Regions from separate parts of the Homo sapiens genome. Here region 1 is linked to region 2. Evidence: fine-mapped expression QTL. A gene starts in region 2. The other region holds a variant in brackets. All regions are shown on one strand. Distances are from middle to middle. Region 1 overlaps CROT (carnitine O-octanoyltransferase). Region 2 holds the start of DMTF1 (cyclin D binding myb like transcription factor 1).

Evidence for each region. PIP is the estimated chance that this variant, and not a neighbour inherited with it, causes the effect. A credible set is the group of variants that fine-mapping cannot tell apart.
Region 1: its variant is the best candidate, but not a certain one, in a credible set for the expression of DMTF1 in whole blood (INTERVAL, PIP 0.65).

The regions. Positions count from the first base shown.
Region 1 is chr7:87,381,955-87,387,346 of GRCh38, forward strand. CROT (carnitine O-octanoyltransferase) reads left to right here. Exons shown (of 18, transcript NM_021151.4): 11 at 1-39; 12 at 120-227; 13 at 459-589. It also overlaps a transcript of ABCB4 not described here. Among named protein-coding and RNA genes, the nearest start is that of CROT, 39 kb to the left of the region's middle. The variant G/A (reference allele first, on the strand shown) is at 2,336.
Region 2 is chr7:87,149,892-87,155,283 of GRCh38, forward strand. DMTF1 (cyclin D binding myb like transcription factor 1) reads left to right here and starts at 2,562. Exons shown (of 18, transcript NM_001142327.2): 1 at 2,562-2,664. It overlaps DMTF1-AS1 (DMTF1 antisense RNA 1), which reads right to left and starts at 2,602. Exons shown (of 2, transcript NR_136253.1): 1 at 2,411-2,602; 2 at 1,532-1,767. RefSeq lists enhancers at 1,632-2,195, 2,111-2,350, 2,196-2,757.

The sequences.
Region 1 (5,392 bases), 230 kb after region 2:
GTGGATGAGAAAATTTTTCAGAATGAAGGAAGATGGAAGGTATGTTTGAATAAATATTTCATCTTTTTTCTCCTAATAGTTCTATAGATAAAATATTTTTAAGTCTTCCCTATTTTCAGGGTTCAGAGAAGGTACGAGATATACCACTTCCAGAAGAGCTCATTTTCATTGTGGATGAGAAAGTTTTAAATGACATCAACCAAGCTAAAGCCCAGTATCTCAGGGAGGTATATTTTTCACTTTTCTCTTAAATAATAATGATTTTTTCTTTTAACAACCATATGTAAAAATTTGGCTGTCATCCAAGCATGTCTGCACAAAACATTTTAAAATTATGCCTTTAACACCTTTAATTCTTTATGTCTGGTGATTACTTTAATGCAGGTGATAATTTGCTTCTCTTTGGTGTATTCTCCTTAGGTGATTTTTCACCGTTCTCATTTAATTCTTCTTGTTAGGCATCTGATCTACAGATTGCGGCTTATGCCTTTACATCTTTTGGCAAAAAGCTAACCAAGAACAAGATGCTTCACCCGGATACGTTTATTCAGCTTGCACTTCAGCTGGCCTATTACAGACTTCATGGACAGTAAGGACCATTCAGTTTCTATTTTCACAGTCTTGAAGTCCAAGGGTATATCTTTTTTTATAGCTATTTCATCCTAACTCCTCAGTATTTTTGCTCACTTTTTTCCCAGCTGGTACTGTGTCCTATTTGTACTTCCATCAATAGAGTATTAGATTTCTGATCTGTGGTGGTTTCACAGTTTTTCCTTGTTACTTTATCACAGTATCCACTTGATAACTTTTGACGTGTCTATTCTCATCTGAAAGAGGATTGGTCATCTTTGGCATTCAGATCGCTTGGTTTTCTTGCAACGTCAGTTTTCTGATGGGTTCATGAAAAGTTGTGATTTTATAAATTATCCAGCCTTTACTCATTTTTAGAATAGGAGCGACATTAATTTTGTGACTTAATACATCCTAAGAAGAAGTAGAAGTCCCTCAATGTTGCTTTTTCATTGATAAATAAGTTATAATTGAACATATTTATCAGGTACATGTGATTTTTTTGATACATGCATAAAATGTGTAATGGTCAAATCACGGTAATTGGGATGTCCACTGCCTCAACCATTTATTACGTCTTCGTGTGGGGAATGTTCCAAGTCTTCTCTTCTTGGTATTTTGAAATATACAACAAATTATTGTTAACTATAGTCAACCTACTGTGCTATCGAACACTAGAAGTTATTCCATCTAACTGTACCATTATACCCATTAGCTAACTTCTCTTCAATCTCCTCTCCCCCCTACTCATCCCAATCTCTGTTAACCACCATTTTACTGTCTACTTCCACGAGATCAATTTTTTTTAACTCCCATATATAGGTGAGAACCTGCAGTATTTGTCTTTCTATTTCTGGATTATTTCACTTAACAAAAAGTTATCCAGCCTTACCCATGTTGCTGCAAATGAAGGGATTTCATTCTTTGTTTTTTTATTTTGGCTGAGTAATATTCCATTGTGTATGTATATCACTTTTTTTTTTTTTTTTGAGTCAGAGTCTTGCTCTGTCGCCCAGGTTGGAGTGCAGTGGCATGGTCTTGGTTCCCTGCAACCTCTACCTCCTGGGTTCAAGCAATTCTCCCTGCCTCAGCCTCCTGAGTAGCTGGGATTACAGGTGCCTGCCACCATGCCTGGCTAATTTTTATAGTTTTAGTAGAGATGGGGTTTCGTCGTGTTGGCCAGGCTGGTCTCTAACTCCTGAGCTCAGGTGATCTGCGTGCCTTGGCCTCCCAAAGTGCTGGGATTAGAGGTGTGAGCCACCACGCCCGGCCCACATTTTCTTTATCCATACATCTGCTGGACACTTAGGTTGATTCTATATCTTGACTATTGTGAATAGTGCTGCAATAAACATTGGAGTGTGGCTATCTCTTTGATATATTGATTTCCTTTCTCTTGGATATATACCTAGCAGTGGGATCATCAGATTGTAGGGTAGTTCTTTTTTTTTTAGTTTTGTGAGGCACTTTCAGACTGTTCGCCATAGTGGCTGTACTAATTTACATTTCCACCAACAATGTATGAGGGTTCCCTTTTCTCCACATCTTTGCTAGCATCTGTTATTGCCTATCTTTTTGATAAAAGTGATTTTTAACTAGGGTGAGGTGATGTCTCATTGTAGTTTTAATTTGCATTTCCCGATGATTAGTGATGTTGAGCATTTTTCATATACTTGTTGGCTGTTTGTATGTCTTCTTTTGAGAAATGTCTATTAAGATCATTTGTCACTGGGCGCATGGCTCACACCTGTAGTCCCAGCAATTT[G/A]GGAGGCCGAGGTGGGCAGATCACCTGAGGTCAGGAGTTTGAGACCAGCCTGGCCAACATAGCGAAACCCTGTCTCTACTAAAAATACAAAAATTAGCCTGATGTAGGGGCACATATCTGTACCTCTACCTACTCAGGAGGCTGAGGCACGAGAATCCCTTGAACCTGGGAGGCAGAGGTTGCAGTGAGCTGAGATCGTGCCACTGCACTCCAGCCTGGGCGACAGAGCAAGACACTGTCTAACAACAACAAAAAAGATTATTTGTCCATTTTAGATCAGATAAATTTGTGTGTTGCTATTGAGTTTTTTAAGTTCCTTATATATTCTGATTATTAATTTCTTGGGAGATGGATAGTTTGCAGATATTTTCTCCCATTCTGTGGGCTGCTGATTGTTTCCTCTGCAGTGCAGAAGCTTTTTAACTTCATATGATCCCATTCGTCCATTTCTGCTTTGGCTTCCATACTTGTAGGGTATTACTCAAGAAATATTTGCCCAGTTCAGTGTCTTACAGAGCATCCTCAATGTTTTCTTTTAGTAGTTTTATAGTTTCAGGTCTTATATTTAAGCCTTTAATCCATTTTGATTTGAATTTTGTACACGGTAAGAGATAGTGGTCCAGTTTCATTCTTCTGCATATGGATATCCAGTTTTCATGGAGCCATTTATTGAAGAGCCTGTCCTTTCCTTTGCTGAAAAGGAGATGCCTGTAAATACACGGATTTATTTCTGGGTTCTCTATTCTGTTCCATTGGTCTGTATGTCTGTTTTTATGCCAGTAACATGCTGTTTTGGTTACTATAGTTTGGCGGTATATTTTGAAGTTTGGTAATGTGATACCTCAAGCTTTTTTTTTTTTCCCCTGGTATTGCATTGGCTATTCTGGGTCTTTTGTGGTTCCATATGAATTTTTGGATTTTTTTTTCCTATTTTTGTGAAGAATATTGTTGGTATTTTGATAGGAATTGCATTGAATATGTAGATTGCTTTGGGTAGGATGGACATTTTAACAATATTAATTCTTCTAATTAATGAACATAGGTTGTCTTTCCATTTTTTGGTGTTCTCTCACTTTCATCAGTGTCTTATAGTCTTCCTTGTATTGATTTTTTTACTTTTTTGGTTCAGTTGATTCCTAGGTATTTTATATTCTTTGTAGCTATTGTAAATGGGATTGCTTTCTTGATTTGTTTTTCAGATTGTTTGCTTTTTGCATATAGAAATGCTACTGATTTTAATATGTTGATTTTATATCTTGCAACTTTACTGAATTTGTTTATCACTCTAATGGCTGTTTGTTGGTGTCTTAAGTATTAGATCATGTCATCTGCAGACAGGACAATTTGACTTTTTCCTTTGCAATTTGAGTGCTCTTTATTTCATTCTCTTTTCTAATTGCTTTGGCTAGGACTTCCAATACTATGTTGCATAAAAGTGGTGAAAGTAGGCATCTTTGTCATGTTCTAGATCTTAGAGGAAAGTCTTGCAATTTTTCCATGTTCAGTATGATGTTAGCTCTGGATTTGTCATATGTGGCTTTTATTGTTTTGATGTATATTTCTTCTTTACTGAGTTTGTTGAAAATTTTTTTTATCATGAAGGTATGTTTAATTTTATCAAATGCTTTTCAGCATCTATTGAAATGATTATAGGGTTTTTGTCCTTTATTCTGTTGATGTGATATATCATGCTTATTAATTTGCATATGTTGAACCATCTGAATCCCACTTAATCATGGTGAGTGATCTTTTTAATGTGCTGTTGAGTTCAGTTTGCTAGTATTTTGTTGAGGATTTCTGCATCTGTGTTCATCTGGGATACTGCTCTGTAGTTTACTTCTTTAGTTGTGTCCTTTTCTGGTTTTGGTATTAGGATAATGCTGTCTTCATAGAATGAGATTGAAAATATTCTGCCCTCTTCAATTTTTTGGAATAGTTTGAGTATAATTGGTATTAGTTCTTTTTTTAAAGGTTTATTAGAATTCAGCAGTGAAGCCATCAGGTCCTAAGCTTTTGCTTAATGGGAGACTTTTTATTGCTTCAATCATATTACTTGTTATTGGTCTGTTTGGGTTTTCTATGTCTTTATGTTTCAATCTCAGGTTGTATGTGTCCAGGAATTTATCCATTCCTTCTAGGTTTTCCAATTTGTTGGCATATAGTTACTCATAATAGTGTCTAATGATCCTTTATATTTCTGTGGTATTGGTTACCATATCTCCTTTCATCTCTGAATTTATTTATTTGAGTCTTTTCCTTTTTCCTTATTCTACCTACAGATTTGTCAATATTGTTTATCTTGTCAAAAAATTGACTTTTGGAGCTCTTGTAAAAGTTCAGATTGCTTACTGTTGTGGACTTGGAGTGTCTGCAACGAAAGGATACCCTGGCTGTGTGGGAAGGCTGGCTAGGGCTTTATAGCCTCATGGACTCATGGAGCGTGCTTCCTACACCGTAACACTGCTGAACAACCTCTTTGATTTGGTGTCTTTTTTGGCTGAGATGAAGAGTGATCACTGAGTTTTGTTCATTGGGGATTGCTAACCCCATCTCTACCCATTGTCTCTGGCTGCCTTTAGGATTTTTTTACCCTATAGGCAAAGATGCTTCCCTTAGGTTGAAGCAGGAATGATTTTTCTGTGAAGGAACCCAGCATGGAGATAAGGGTGTCTGTCTGCCTTGATCTCACTTCTTTCAGTGTAGTATTGTGAGTCCATGGGAGTTTTTCCACATGCGGCCTGGCAGCTTGAGGGCGGGGTGTTGTGGATAGAGTGGTCTGTTTCTCTTACCTTCTGCTTGAAGTTTTTTGCTTCTCTCTGGCCCCTGGGATCATCACAGCCTCCATTTTGGTTTCTGGGATACTCCTGAGGATAATTGGTACTAGATAGTTGTTTTGGTTTTCTGTGGGGAAGAGTGAAGCCAGATTGCTTCTACTCTGCCATTATGGTAACATGACTCCTCTCAGTTTTGCTTTTTTATCTAGTCTGAGAATATCTGTCTTTAAATATGTTATTTAGATAATTAAATTCAGTATAATTATCAGTAAATTTGTGTTTA
Region 2 (5,392 bases):
AAAAGTGAAGTGGATATAGAGAGGTTGTCACCAGGCTGAGGTATTAAAAGGATTGCAGAGATGAGACACATAGGCAAAATGCAAGGCGGGAAAAGGATTGTAAGATGGAGTGTCATAAGGCCCAGAGGGAAGCCTACAGGAAGAATCTGAGACAGGAGACCACCTGGTAAAGCCTGGTGTGTGGGCATAACTGGGACAGTTTATTCATTCCTCCATTAGCACAGCAATCTCCATCAGCTGGAAGGCCCTACAGTGTATACCCATCAGCTATATTAACAGGACTCAGAGCCTGTGTAGAAAGAAAATTACTCAGTAATTGTAATTTTCTTTTACTTTGAACAAAAGCTTATAAACATCTTTTTTTTTTCTGAATTAGCAAAAGATGATCATGAAACAACAGAACCTGCTTCTCAGTATTTGAAATACTTTATATTAATATATCAACCTGTCATAAAAGGCAATTTCATCATCAATCACTGATGAGGTTCACAAAAGTGTTATAGACACCTGGAGTCCAACAAAGTCAATTTTAACTAGCAAATGCAGTAAATACCATAGCTAAGCTATAAATACTTTAATAATTATTGTTTAGGATAGAAATACTTCTAATGATTTTTCTACAAAACATTTAATTCCTAAATAGGTAAATCCTTGGATAATATTTAAAACCTCATCCATTCCCTAGGTACACATTGACTAAATAATGAGGTACGGATAACATAGAAGTATAACTGCAGAAAATTGCTCTAGGAATCAAGTTGTGTTATGGATAGTCTTTACATTGATTATTCAAGCTAAAGGGATAGAGACGTTATTATATTTTTTTAAATTATGCATTAAGCTAATATTAAAATACATTTGTCATCCCCAAATAAATACCAATTGACTTGGGAAAAGGTAGTTATAAAAGAAACTCAACCAGAAAGGGAGAATTTAGTTATGAGGATGCACTTGACTTTTTGCGGGGAGTTAGCAGCGTGCAGGCTGACCTAAAATTTAGCAGAGGAGAATGGATAGCCCGACTATAATTTATATATCACTATTTTGTGCCTTAGCAAAAATAATCCTATATGGTTATGTCTTATGAAAAATATGGCTCATTAGGAACCACCTTATCAATGTTAATGTCAACAATTTTGCATATGTAATTATTATTTTATTAGAACTGCTCTTTGAGTAGTTGTATTGCTTTCCTGGCTTTAAGGTTTATTAGTTACCATTTTTAATGCTTAATACACGTCAGATTCCATGCAAACTACGCTGTCTACAATATTCTGGAAGGTACATCTTATTACTCCTAAAGTAAACAAAGCTAAAAGAGGTGAAGTGCCATATCCACTACTAAGAAATGGAGCCAAGATTCACACTCAGGTCTGACTGCCTGAGTCCATACCACGATACTATTCTGCCTCATAGTTTTGCTTACATAAACATTATTATGTACTTATTAAAAAATGGAATGATACACGGCTTAACTCCAACAGAATGCAGAGTGCCACAAATTAGTAATAAAGTTATCAACACAAGAAAATGCTGCTTCTGAGATTTATTTTTGAAAATTAGTCAAACATGTCGATCCTCCAGTAAAGCAAAGCATTTGTAAACTGGTTGTAATCATTTGTTTTCGTTATGAAAGTACTGCCAAAGTGTATTTTGTGAACTGCAACCGGGTAGTTCAGAACACAGGCTTTGGAGCTGAGGCTTCAATTCTAATTCCACCGCCAACTTGGGAGCCCTTGGACACATTCCTTCACTTCTCTTTGGTTCCTGTGTAAAATGGGATTCATTTGTAATAATTGTAGCGATGCACTTAGAACTTATGAACATTAAATGAGTTTAATATACGTAAAACATTTACCTGTCACATACGCACTCAAAGAATGCTGGCTCACATTACAGAACCCAAAGGCTTATTTATCCTTTTCGTTTATAAGGGTATTAAAACGCGTTTTCTATTTAGGATGGGTTTATACGGCTGCAACCCAAGGAGCATCTGTACTTTTAAGAGGAACTGGGCACAGCAAAACAGCATCTTCCTAGTCTAACAGTGAGACTACATTCACAGAGGACACATTTCATCAAGAACGACTTAACACGCCCAGATATCTCATATTATGCCCCTGCGGTAAGGCAAATCAAGTATGAAGACACACACTCCCTGTTTTCTTCAGCACTGAGATCACTGGTTCCCTCCGTTCCACACCGCGGCTCCCTCGGCTCGGAGCCACAGGGAACTATGAAAATCGGCACGCGAGGCCTAAGTGTCCCCAGAACCAGAGGAACCACAGTTGCGTCATAGCAGAAGGACCTCTTTTACAGCATCAGCAGTGGGATAGTCAGTGCCGAGTTTTCCTGGCAGGACAGCCGACAACCACCGCCACAGACCAGTACAAACATTCCAACCCAGGACCTTTTTTCGCGCGCCGACACAGCCGGAAGTGACGCGTACAGCCAGCACGCTGGGCCGCCAGCGGGACAGACGAGCGGGAGGGGCAGCGTGCGGGGAGCTGGGGGCGGGGCGCGGCCGCAGCTCCGTTTCCGGTGGCTCGTCGCGCTCGCTCACTCCAGCTGCAGCCACTCTCGCCCGTGGCTGCTTCCTCCATCCTGGTATTTTTTGGAGCTTCCATCCTGGTTCTTCCAAAGTGCCCGGACCCAAAACAGGAAGTAAGTGCGATGGAACCTTCAGGTTCCAACCGCCGCCAGGGCCGCTCCGCCCAGTGGAGCCTGTCCGGCCCCCTTGCTGCCCGCTAGCTCCCGCCGGCTGGCGCAAGCTGTCGGCGCCGGGGCACTGCGGGCGGGGTCGGAGCCTGGCCTTCCTGACGTTGCAGCTGCCGTCCCCGCACGTTCCGGCCAGGGCCTCCCTCTTAGGGCCGGGCGGTGCCCGTGGCTCAGGCTGCAGAGTAGGGAAGCGAGCGGCTGCCGAGGCACAGCGGCGATCCGGCGGGGGCGGAAAATGGCGGCGGCTTCGGAGGAGCTAAATGGCGCCGGGACCCCTGGGGGGTGGGGTGGGCCGGGAGGTTGAGTAGAGAACTGGGCCAGAAGGAGTGGAGACAGTAAGGAAGCCCTACTTGTTTTCTCGTGGTGTTCTATTTTTAGTTTTTATTTTTGTTACGTTTTCGGTTTTGTTTTATGGTCCAGCGTAGGAGAGGTAGGCTTGGGTGGGGTCGAGAGAGTGGGGGTGGGTCTCGACCCAACTTCCCCCCCTTTGCTTTTTTGTTCTTTTCCCTCGTTTGCGCTTTAGATTCTTCTGTAATTTTGCGGGGGTTCAGCCTTGCTCGGCGATTCACGGCCCAGACATAGAGAATCGGGATAGCTGGCCGAACCGTCTCTCTCAGTCTGACTCTCTTTAAAGAAGGGATGTGGGCTGGGGCGCGGGGACAGTCCTGGTGGAGCACGGAAAATGCGGCTGTAAAGTTGTAATTACCCTATTGTGCCGAGTTCCGAGAAAGTTCTTAAAATTGTTAAGTCCACTTTGTTCTCTAAAATGTACTTCGCTTTGAGAATTTCTTCAGGGAGGTATGTAGAATGTTTTACCACAATCTCCAGAGCAGATTTGAGAGTAGAAGTGGCCAAGTGCCCTTTTGTGCAATTGAATGATAGAGCATATGTCTTTATATAAAATACTCGGTGTAGATAAGGAAAAGGATAATAGTATACAGTATGAGTCAGGACTCCTCCCTTTCTCTCATTGAATTTGTGTAGTTGCTTTTTTCGCAACTCATTCATCTTTGTGTACCTCTTTTTAATGTACATGGATTTGATTATGTGTGCCTCCTTTCTGACAGTCGAGGCTGCATGTTGGGACGTCCTACAAAATGCATATTCTGTGGAATTATTTTTTAATATGACATGTCTTAAGCTTAAAGTGACGCCATTTGGAAAATTTTAAATTATACCTGTATTTTTAATTCGTGGGAGAAAACCATTTGTAGCTTTTAAGCTCCAAATACGAAAATATTCTTCCACTATGTTGAAAGTATTGCAAAATCTGTTTTTTTCAGTTAAGGGTTTTCATGTTTTTTCATTACTTCAAATTTCTTTAAGCTGGTTTTGAAATTATATTTCAAATAGCTTTCTGAGGATTACTGTCTTTTAATAACTTGAATAATTTGCCATCACTTTAACATTTAAAGAATGACTATGGCGATACACCAAAATCTTATCTTTTTGCTCTTATGGTGTACTTAGAGACAGGATTTCATGTATTTGGTTAGGATTTAGAAATTCTGTTAAGATTTAGAGAAAAAAGGTTAAAGCTACATTCCTTAACGTTACAAAAATTGTCATGCTGAGAGAATCCAATTTGGTGTGAGAATAATTTTTTTCTTCCATACAGAAAGCACAAAAACCAGCCTGATTGTATCTGGAAAAAACCATTATGTTACAGGTGTGAAAAATACATTTCATGATTGTGGTGATTTTTATCTCATTTTAACTCTCGATACTAGGTGCTTCTGTATGCCACCAAACAAGCTAATTTTTTTTCTTACTATTTTAGTTGATAGGCTCACCCCAAAATATGCTTTTGGGGACTGATTTAGCACCTGCATATTCTGCGTGAATCTCTTTAATTGGTTGCAGTTGAGCTAATGGTGGAGCCAAAATGCTATTGCCCTGTCTTCATCAACATTTAATCAGTAAGTACTGGGCATTGCATCTTTCTTAGAACTTTAAGTTCATACGTTGCAGTTATATGAATACATTATTTTATGTAAACATTTTTCTGAGTGTTCAGGTTTTAGAAGTATTTTGAGGGGAAGAAATCAAAGTTTGGGCGTTATGACTTGAGCTTTGAAAACAGCATGGTTGGGAAATGTTTACTGGTGGAGACTCATATCAAAAGTAGATAGCTGTCCTCTAGTCCTTTTTTTAGAGATCTCTTTTTTCAATCCTTTAGTTATCTCATTACACCCCAGGGGTGCTTTAAAGGTGGGGAGATAGTGTATGTATTTTATAAGGTTAGTTTGATATCACTGGTTAGTATTTAAATAACAACAAAAAACTTGCCTTTACCTCCTCCGCAAAAAATCTTACCTTTCTATTAGCCTCATTTATCTCTCCAAAATCTACAGACTCTAATTTTTATTAATGGTGTAATAAACTTACATGTCCTGAAAATAACATCTCATTATTTTAAACAGTTGCCTTTGCCATGCTTCATTAAGTGCATTGGCTTAAATTAACACCTGTGAGGATGAATGGGATAATGTGAAACAAGTATTCCTAAGGATTTACTGCCTGGCACATAGATGTTAAAATATTGAGGGAGCTTAGAAGTGTTTTTGAAAGTATTGACGTCTTGCATCACTTGTATTAAACACACATCTGTCTGTTGCAAAGACATCAAAAGCTTAGAAAGGAACAAAGTTTAAGGAGGGTTCATTCTACTTTT